2 separate regions of the Homo sapiens genome follow, and region 2 is linked to region 1. A link means that fine-mapping ties the variant in region 1 to the expression of a gene that starts in the linked region. Tissue or cell type: whole blood. Region 1 holds a variant in brackets; the other region holds the start of a gene. All regions are shown on one strand. Distances are between the middles of the regions.

Evidence for each region. PIP is the estimated chance that this variant, and not a neighbour inherited with it, causes the effect.
Region 2: PTPRE starts here. The variant in region 1 is fine-mapped to the expression of PTPRE in whole blood (TOPMed, PIP 0.97).

Annotation. Positions count from the first base shown.
Region 1 is chr10:128,068,007-128,073,194 of GRCh38, reverse strand. It overlaps PTPRE (protein tyrosine phosphatase receptor type E), which reads right to left. Exons shown (of 21, transcript NM_006504.6): 12 at 4,909-5,072; 13 at 3,368-3,503; 14 at 2,745-2,894; 15 at 2,294-2,387; 16 at 981-1,057. Among named protein-coding and RNA genes, the nearest start is that of AS-PTPRE, 8.2 kb to the right of the region's middle. RefSeq lists a silencer at 3,659-3,856. The variant G/A (reference allele first, on the strand shown) is at 2,284.
Region 2 is chr10:127,904,634-127,909,738 of GRCh38, reverse strand. PTPRE (protein tyrosine phosphatase receptor type E) reads right to left here and starts at 2,636. Exons shown (of 21, transcript NM_006504.6): 1 at 2,430-2,636. RefSeq lists a silencer at 2,673-2,792.

The DNA.
Region 1 (5,188 bases):
GAGCACTCAGGCACACACCTGACAAGCAGGTCAAGAAGCTCGCTTATCTGAAACCATAACGGCCACCGTCAGCCCCTGAGGTCATCAACAAATGGGTATTATGAACTGGTAGTTGCCTGTGGCCACCTGAACAGCACCTGGTGGCTTAGATTCTAACATGTTTCTGTGTGTTTCAGCTAGATCAGCATGGAGCCCACCGGATTCTGGTACAATTTTCTCATCTGCAAATGGCAATATGAACACACACTTGGCTGCCATTCCCCCTTTTGCCCTTCTTCTGCGAACTCCACTGTGCATGAAGACAGCCTCTGTGTGCCCTGAACACATAATTGTATTGTCCACGTGGGTACACATTGCAGAAATCACACAAGAGAAAGAGCACAGAGGCAGTGGATATATAATTGGTGTGTAACAGATATGTAAAAGAAAAATAACTATATATTAAAAGCAGAATGAAAAAAGAGCCAATTACTTAGCAGCGAGTCTATGTCCTTCTATTTCCAAAGTCCACTTTTTTTTTTTTTTTTTTTTTTTTTTGAGAGGGGGTCTCGCTCTCACTCTGTTGCCCAGGTTGGAGTACAGTGGTGTAATCTCAGCTCACTGCAACCTCAGCCTCCCGGATTCAAGCAATTCTCCTGCCTCAGCTTCCCAAGTAGCTGGGATTACAGGCACCTGCCATCACGCCCAGCTAATTTTTGTATTTTTAGTAGAGACGGGTTTTGCCATATTGGCCAGGCTAGTTTCAAACTCCTGACCCCAAGTGATCTGCCCGCCTTAGCTTCCCAAAGTGTTGGGATTACAGGTGTGAGCCATCGTGCCTTGCCACTTTTTTTTTTAAGCAAGTAATTCTGCTAACAAAAATGGCTGAGTTTCTGGAAACATGTCAATTCTTTCTCATTGTGAAAACAAGCTAATCAAGTCTGTGGTCACATGTGAAGGAAACACATCTGCATAAACACAACCCAGGCCAGCATACGTACGTCTATGAAGGATGCGTTGATGTAGTCTGTGTATTCTTGACCCCTTTTCATGGAAAGGATCACTCGGTTGAAGTCATCTGCAAAGCATTATCTTCCTTTAGTTATTACAAAAAGGGTCCCACCTTGCTAACTTTAATCCATTGCTACAAGCTTGCAAAATATAGATCCTATTAATAAAATCACTACGTAAAGCCAACTCTTTGGAAAGTTTACGTTATGAGAGACGATAATTAAAGTGGCTCAGGGGTATTTTTCTTTTTGAAGGAAAACTCTGAAAACCACCCAATTATCATTTTCATTTTTCAGGAATCGATATAATACATACCAAAATACAAGCACTAAAAATATTGCGCTGAAGGAGTAAATGGAATGTGGCCAGGCAAGCAATCTAGAGTGGCCAGCAGGACACCGGGGCCCCAGAAAACCAAGGGCCAGAGTCTGAAGATGGCAGCACCCCGGGGAGCTCTACTCGCCTGCAGTGCTCGGGGAGACCCTGCTGCAGCAGGCCTGCTCCCAGCTGTTTCCAGATGGTGTTTGTTGAGCTGTGACTCTGTCGAGGACAAGTCTATAACGAGGCACACCCTCCTCCCAAGCGGGGCATCTCCCACCTCCCTCCCTAGTTCCTCGGATCCCTGTGGAGTCTGCTTTGGGGCCGGGTTTCTCAAGTTTCTCTTTTTCCCACTTGGTGAGCCTCCCGATTCCCACTCCCCTGCCCACTGCATGTGGCCCTGTCTTCTTGCCAGCTTTGCCTCCACTCCTCCCACACCTGCCAGGTCCTCCTTCCCTCTCCCATGACCTGGGTGGCAGACCAGTGTCCTGACTCTACCCTAGGCCCATTTCTTGTCCTCCTCAAGGCCACAGCCTTTTCCTAGGTGGTCTCAGCTGAGTTCACCTGCATGGCCTCGGCTGGGTGGCTCAGGCCCCTCTGTGTAAGGGGGAGGCGGGCCTCTGCCCAGGCTTGGGGAGACAAGGAATGAGACAAGGAATCCCAAGTCGTGCCTGCCGCAAATCTCCAGCTTCTGTGAAGCCCTCCCCTGAAATCAGCCTCGGCTGCCCTCCCGCATCTGCAAGCTCATATCCGAAGCAGCTTGCCTGAGACCCATGCAGGACTGTCTGGGTCAGCTGGTGCTTCACAGGTGTCTTTTCTACCTGACATTTGGTACAGCACACAGGAGCCCTTAGCCTGAGGCCAGAGGACACCCTGCTTTTGACCCTGGTGCACAGGGGTAAGCGGTCAATGGCTTCTCCAGGATGAAAGCCTCCGGCACCAGCCCCGCCCCAGCCCTGCCCAAGCCACGCCACG[G/A]GTGCCTTACACGGGATGATCTGGATGACCCTGGCCTTCTTCATGTTTGCCGGCAAGTTGCCCGTCCTCATGTTCTCCTTCATGATCCGGACATTTGTCAATTTCTGCAGCAGAGAAGGATATAATGACACAGTTAAACCTCTGACACTCCTGAGCACATTGCTCAGCCGAGGACTAGTGCTGCTGGCAAGGACGCCTGCTCAAAGGAAACCACTCTCCAACCCAGGAAGCCTCCTTAGCATTGGGAAATACAAATGTGTGCCTAGTAGGGCTGCTATGAGGCTCTGAAAGCCACCTGATCCTTCTTCCCTTGTAAATCATGGCTCAGGTATTGCCCCTGCTTTTTCTGAGGTCAGTTAAGGGGCAAGTGATTGAAAGAGGCTTCCTTTAAATGGTCACCTGTTTTCCTCGTGCCCTTGGCTGCTTACACCAGGATGGAGAGGAGGGTCAGCTGTACTCACCCTGAACTCCTCCTCCAGCCCGATCTTGTCGAAGTGGGTGGTGGTGCCGTGCATGGTCTGCAGGTGCTTCTCCAGGGAGGACACGTCCAGCTCTGTGTCCCCGTAGAGGTAGTACTCGAGTAAGGCTTGGTAGATGAACGTGTACTGCATCTGCAGAGAGGCCAGGGGTGCCCACACCCTCAACTCTGCCCTGCAGTCTTGGCCCACGTGGAGCTTGGCAGACCAAAGAGGGCGGCTTTCTTCTTTTTCTCTTTTTGCCAACACAAGGAGGTGTGAGGCAAGAGTCAGAGTACCGGCCACGGATAACGACCATTTATGCCCTTGAGTAAGGAGAACGGTAGCAGCAGAGCCTCACATTGGTGAGCACGCCACGCACTGTGTACATGCACCGTTTGGGGGAGTAGGATTGCCCCATCTCACATGAGGATACGAGGGAAAGATGAGGACGAGGGAGTCCCTGAGGTCCCACGCGTGGGCAGGGAAGGCTATGGGGAGCGAAGCCAGGCCAGGCCCAGGCTGGTTGCCACGTGCCCATCAGAGCCAGGGCCCTGCACACCTGTGTGGCGAAGGCATCGGGTTTGCTTTGGGAAGCTAGATCAGGGCAAGAGGAAGGCATGACTCACATCCGTTTGAACCATCTGAGGGCGCTGATTACGGATTCGAGACACAAATTCAAACACATCCACCTTCTGCTCCGCGTGCATCATGGCCATCATGGCATCGATCACAATGAAGGTGCCCGTCCGGCCCACGCCCGCGCTTTGGGGAAAGAGAAAGATGCTGCGTCGTGAGTCACACTCCTCCCGAAGTAAATGAAAGGCCCCGAAGGGGCCTGCGCACCCAGGTCACTGGATGCAACTTTTTGTTTTTTTGGTTAATTAGGAGCAAAGCTACAGTGCAGCCACCAGAGGGAGCTGTGGTCTCAGTAAAGTGATCTCAGGCCGGTCCTCTGATAGCCACCGACACTCTACTAAGAGGCACATTAACAGCTGGTGCAGTAAGCCTCGGATTAGGCTGTGTGGAGAATTTTTCTCACTTACCAAACAGTGTCTTCTTCTTATATGTGTGATTGGCATCCTAGATCTGTCCCCCTGGGAGCAGAGGGACCTCAGATCAACTATGCAACAGCTCTGGTATCCAGCCTCCCTCTCTGTCAAACTGGGCAAACCAAGTCATCTGACTCGGGGCATTAAGTGAGGTGGCATCTGTCAGATTACTGTTATCTGACCCTGCAAATTCTTCCCAGTATGAGCTACACTGGAGGGTGGGTGGGGTGGGGTCCAGCCTCTGCTTGGCCCCAGCAAGCGAGTGTTGCTCAGACTTGGGGAAAGCCCGTTCTTCGGGGGTTCCTGGACGGCTTCTCGTGAACACCTGCATGACAGGTGCAGAGCGCCTGCATCACTGCGTGCAGGTGGCTTTTGTCCCTGGCAGTGCTGTGATACTCAGAATGAACCTGTCTGTAACAGATGGAAACTTAGTATCTAATCAAAGTGATACCCTGGTGAGGCCAATCACTGCCAGGAACAAGTGGGGCTCTCTGTGGACAGGGGGTTGTGGGGTGGCCTTGGCTGTACATTTGAGTAATTCTTCATGTTGTGCAAAGCCCACCCAGATGCCAGTCACAGGCTCCGCCGAGGCTGTCCTTCCCATCACAGGTGAGGAAACCGAGGCTGAAGTGGCAGCTGGCGAGGGGCAGCCTGGTCCTCGGACCCTGGTCTCCAGGACAGCGTGTTCTGGAAGACTCTGCTGTGGGGGCCCATCTGAGCATGGTGTGCTCTTCCATAACGACTTGTGTGTTGTTGGGGGGCTTCCTGTAGAAACCAGGGGGCTTTCTCTCATTTCCATCTTGGTTCCCAGAGGTGACTTGGGATTCCCGGGGAGAGGTGAGGGCGGCCAAGCAGACCTGCCCAGAACTCCATTCCCACCATCAACCGGAGCCTCCTGGCTTTGGTGGGTTTTATCGACTGGGATGAAGAGGGGGCTCTCTGAACATTCTCCTGTAGGGTTCTTGGGGCCTGGCTCAGTCACTGACATTTGTGTTCACATCAGCCCTGCCCAAACCTCTGCCCACCCTGATATTGGTCCCCTGGCATTGCCCATGAGGATGAGTCATCCCACTGTGGCCTGCCCTTGAGGGTCCCGCCCCGTGGCCCCCACAGCGTACCTACAGTGGACCACGATGGGCCCAGCGTGCACGGGGTTGAGCGTCTTTACTTTCTTGAGGAACTTCAGCATCCCAATGGGGGTAAAAGGCACTCCGAAGTCGGGCCAGCTGGTGAAGTGCAGCTGTGAGACCAGCCTGGGGGCTTTGCAGCCGTCGGGGAGCTGCTGCGGGGGACGCGGGGAGACAAGAGTGGGTGAAACAATCCTCCCCCTGCTCCCCCAGCATCTCATTCTGAGGACGCCGCCGTGGGCTCCCCTGTGCTGGGGCTGCGTAGGGGAGG
Region 2 (5,105 bases), 160 kb after region 1:
AGGCTCCACTGGTAGGCACATGGCTGGGCACTGGAGATACAGTATTGCCCTCTCTTCACAGAAACTATAGTCTGGCATACATTTCAGAAGCAACATGGAGGCTGGTGGAATTGGATGGATAAAGACAACACTGGGAAAGTACTGGAAGGGGAGGGGAGATCACAAGTTTGATTTTGACGCATTGAGTCAAGGGGCATTTGATATCCCAGGGAGAAATGTCAAGTGGGCAGCTGCGGAGGAGAACTACAGAGGAGTGGCCGGGCCTAGAAACACACCTCTGGCCTTCAGGGAGGGAATATTGATCAGCGGTGCACCTTAGACTAGGCTAATGGTGGTGCAGATGGAGCACAGTGGACCCACTGAGGCACAGCTGGGAGAAGCATACTTTCACCAGTTGAAACTGATGCATCTACCATCACCCCCACTGTGAATGCATCTTCTCTTGGGGTTTGGGGGCAAGATTTGCACACACAGCCACCTCTCTTCTCAGGGGCAAGGATGTACACACACAGCCGCATCTACTCTCAGGGGCAATGGTTTGCACACACGCATCCCTGGAGAAGAGGGGGCTCCCATCAGGGCACAGTGCTTCAGGACCTCCTCCAGGCTTCCGTGGAGGTGGCGGTGCTGACACAGGGAGCGCATCTCTCTCTGCCAGCTGTCCCCCACAGAAATGAGAGGTGGCCTCTGTGTGACTTTCCGCATTGTCCTCACTTTGTGTCCACACAGGGCCTCCAAGAAGCATCACACGTAAAGACAATAACACCCTCATCGACTTCCCTCAACTGGTTTGACTGGAACTGATGAGGGAGTGTGTGACTAAGTCCCAAGCCATCTGGACACATCCAGTGACCTGACCTTTTACAGAGACAAATCTAGCTCCTAGCTCTTGTCCACATGGGAACGGTCTGTTGGGGCAGGGAGGGGGCGGTGGTGACTCACAGGCATCACCAACATCAATGAACAAAAATCTTGGCCCCCAAGGTCAGATTCAGGGGCAGAGCCTTGTCTGGGAAGGGCTGGGTGGTACGTCAGGCCTCTCTCACTGACAGCGCAGCCCCCACCTCTTGGGCCTGCTCCACCTCGCCTCTGACCTTTTGCTCCCCAAATGCCAAGAGCCTGTGCTTGGAAAGTACAGACCCTAACCCTGTTCACACCACAGAGCTCTGCCCATACCATGCTGGCTGAGTGACCGTGGTGGTCAGACGCTTGCCCCAGCCACTGGCCCCCACCATTTCATGCCCTCCTCTGGCCATTATCCCAGTTTTGGAAACGACCCTCCACACCCCCCCTCCCCACCCACATACACACAGTTTAAATGGACAAGAGTCGTTAGTGTGCAGAGGCAGAACTTCATCCATCTTTGGGACACAAAGACCTCCAGACGCCCTGGGTCAAGGGGTACCTGGGGCCAAATGCAGAGCTGACTGGACATGGACACAGTAATTTCTGTATCACGTGATCACTCTTTGCTGGTGTTCATTCAACTCACCTATACGCTCATTCACTCTAAAATACAAGCAGAGAGCTGTATTCTTTCTTTGAGTTTCCTGGATTGAAACTCTGATGGAATGGTCACGACTCAAGACAAACCAATATCATAATTCTGCAAGTATAATTGCCTAATCTTTCTGGAAAGGTTTGCATGCCTGGAAGGAATTTAGGTCAGGTCCAGCGCGGTCTCCATCCGGCTTGGCTCTGCCTCCCCATCCTGTGGGTTGCCCGGCCTTCCCCAGATGGTCCCGGGAGCTCTCAGAATTGGCACCGCGCTCGCATCTGTGCTCAGGAGCCCTGTGAGGTCGTCGACCCTGCAAATCGCGGCAGTCCAGCCTGGACCACCTGCCAGGGTCTCCCTGCCGCATCTCCGACCCCCGGCGGCTGCTGCATCCCGCTCCACCTGCCTCCCTGGGAAGGCGCGGGCGCCCGCCCGGCTGCGGGGCAGCATCCTGGCAGAGCGCCGGCCCCTCCCAGAGTTGGCACAACTCGAGCCACTTTCTTCAAAGGCTCCAGCCTCCAGCCTCGAGTGGGCGCAGCCCCCCACGCGCGGCCTGCACCCCCTCTCTGTGTCGCCCGCTTTCACGTACGCCGCCCTGCCGCCGGCCCCCGCGCACTGTAGCCACCCGCAGACACGCGCGCCCTCCTCCTGTTTACCGAGAGGGAGCGTGAGCACTGCCACTGTGGTCGCCAAGTTGGGCTGGGGACTCCGGGTGAGGGGACGCGCCACAGGCCGGGGTCGGGGGTCGTACGGGCCCCAGCCGCTGGTACTGGGCGCGCCGCGGGGGCGGCGGGGCCGGGGTCCGGACTCTGAGCCCCGGAGCGGCCCCTCCCTCCCGCGGCAGCGGCCGAGGCAGCGCCCCGGCCTGCTTGGGCCTCCCGGGGTGCACAGTTCCCCACAGGGGCGCAGGGTCCCTGTCCGCACGCGCGCTCACCTCGGGGGGGCCGGTCTGGTCGCGCAGATCGCGCTGCAGCGGAGGCTCCGCATCTCCCGGGCGCCTGCCCGCCGCCCTCCGGGGCGCCCGGCTGTCTTCGCCGGGCGCGAAGAAGGGTCGCGGGGACGCGCAGAGGCCGTGGGTTCCTGAAGCCGCTCGCGCCGGCTCCTGCCGCCCGCTGTCCGCAGCCTAGCAGGAAATTTGTCCGGCCGGCCGCGTCCCGCCGCCGCCTCGGCTCCAGCTCCGGCTGTGGCTCCGCGGCGGGGGCGGGGGCCTGGGCGCTGCGAGGAGCGGGGGCGACGCCTGGTGCCCGGCGCGGGGAGCGCATCCAGGGCGCCCGCCCCACCTGCGAGGCGGGTATGGCCCTGAGGCCCTGCGGCCCTGCCCTGGGAGCACCCAGACACTGTGGGCATCCGTTTACTCAAGGCTGGTGCCCCTTCCGGGGAGGCCTGGTCCAGCCACTCCGCCGGGACCCAGGTGCGTAGACAGAGGGTCAGGGTATGGCAGGCACTCACACCTGGTGGAGAGCAAAGGCAAGGCCCTGCCTCTCCCTGCCCTATCCCTGTGCACCAGGAAGTGGCCTGACTAGGGACTCGCCCTGGTCTTGCAGCAGGTGTGGGACACGCAGGGCACCCCGTGCGCTTCTGGTGCGAGGAAGCTGGGAGAGCTGTGAGGTCGCTGGGCCTGGTGGCCTCCTCTGGAAAGAGGAGGGGATAAGGCGCCTGTCTGGGGGATGTAGAAGAGGGCTCGCTTGTCCCGAAGGCAGTATCTGTCAAAGTTAAAAACGCACAAAGAGAAAGAAGAGCGACAGAGCCAGGCACTGGGCCTGCTGTCTAGCCGACTTCTTCCAGGGAATTTCACTCAAGCTATTTAGGGAGCTTTCAGAGAAAAGGCAGTTCCCTGGAAGGAGCAGAAAAGACACTGGTGGCATGTTGGTTCTGAACCTTTGTGCCGTGCCCTCTGGATGGGGCCACGGCCCAGCCCTCATGAGGGAAGCTGCATTCTGTGGTAGGGACCCAGCTCATTAGGCTTATGAATGAATGAATGGATGGGGAGAAAGTGGCACTTACGGTGTGTTACCCCACGTTGCACCGATTGCCAGCCGACGACTCTTAGCATACTTAAGGCCTGTTTAGACAGAGCTACGGACCCCAAAGGCTGCAGAGCAATGGGTGCCTCCTGGCAGAGGCCACCCCCACGTGATTTGCCCAGAGTGGGACTTCCCCTCCACAGGGGCCGGAGAGCTGCGAAACCAGTGGAGAACTTGAGCTCCACCTCCCTGCCCTGCCCTGCCCATTTCTGTCCCTGGGGGCCTTGTCTAGCCCCAAAGCTTTAAACACCATCCGTATGGGAATGACTCTAAGCAGCACCACTCTGGGGCCCTCTCCTCCAAGCTCAGCTCCTCCTGGCTGTCTCCTGCTGTCTCAGACCTGCCTCTTGCTCTTACTTAGTTTCTCTGCAGTCGTCCCTGTCCCTGCCTCCGTGTCCCACCTCAAGTCCACCTCCCAGAGGGCCCAAGTCCACTTCCCACTGGCTTCTCCATGCATCTTGCCCTTTCATCTCACTGCCTGCGCCCCTCCAAAACCTGCAGTGGCTCCCCAGCTTCTGACCCACTCTCCCAGATGATCCATTCTTCACACTTGGTCCCAGGCACCTCACAAAGTGTAAACCGGGTCCTGCTAGCCCCCTGCTTAAAAGCCTCCAGGAATATTAAAACCCAAACTCCCACGAGGCTCTGCCTGACTTCCCTGGCTGCTCTGAGCCTCTCACCCCTGCCCGCTGGGCTCCAATCACGGCTCCTTTCTCTCAGTGCCAGAGCCAAGCTCCTTCCTGCCTGGGACTCCTCCAACCAGTGCACCTGGTTCCTTCTTACTGGTGGCTTCTGGAAGATCGCCCTGCATCCATCTCTTCTGCCACTCTCTTCCACATCCTCCATCACAGTTTGGAATTATTTGTGGGTTTATTGGCTCCTTTTGTGTCTGTCGTGCCCTCTTCCCCTACCCCCAGGGCTGTAAGCTCCAGCAGCCTAGGCTCTGTTGATCTCCATGGCTTCTCAGACTCAAGCTCCTAAAGCAACGTCAGTAGCCAGGAGGTGCTCAGTGAAGGCGTCTGGGCTGTCAGAGCAGAGGAGGATGGGCCCCAGCCAGCAGCAGCAGACAGCCTGGTCACCTCGGAGCCCAGCAGGGCGGGTGGCTCCCTCCTGAGTGCACCTCCAAGGAACAGCCCAGGTTGAGGTGGGGCCAGGTAGCACATGACGTCACCAGGCTTTGGATTTTTCTGCTGTTGTGGTCTACAGAGTCAGGCTTATGTACATGAAGGCCATAATTACAAAGCTCTGCTAAGCACAGTTTTGCTTGTTAACGCTGCAGGGCTGAGGAGGCAGAGACTGTGAGCTAAGAAGACAGAAACAACTTGCCTTTGTCAGACATCTGCTATTGGAAAGTGAACAGCCTTGGTAACATGATGGGGAGGCAGATGGCTCTTCTTTCCTCATAATATCTTCTCTGCTGGACCCCAAAAATTCTCAACCCTTTCTAAAGTCTACAGACATTCATCATTGTCACACAGAAGCGTGTTGTCAGAAGTGTTTGTGCCAGGGCCCTGTTGATTACCACAGGGAAGCCCTTCATCCTTCTTCACCATCTTCATTTTTGCCTCTCATAGGCTCAAGGTCCC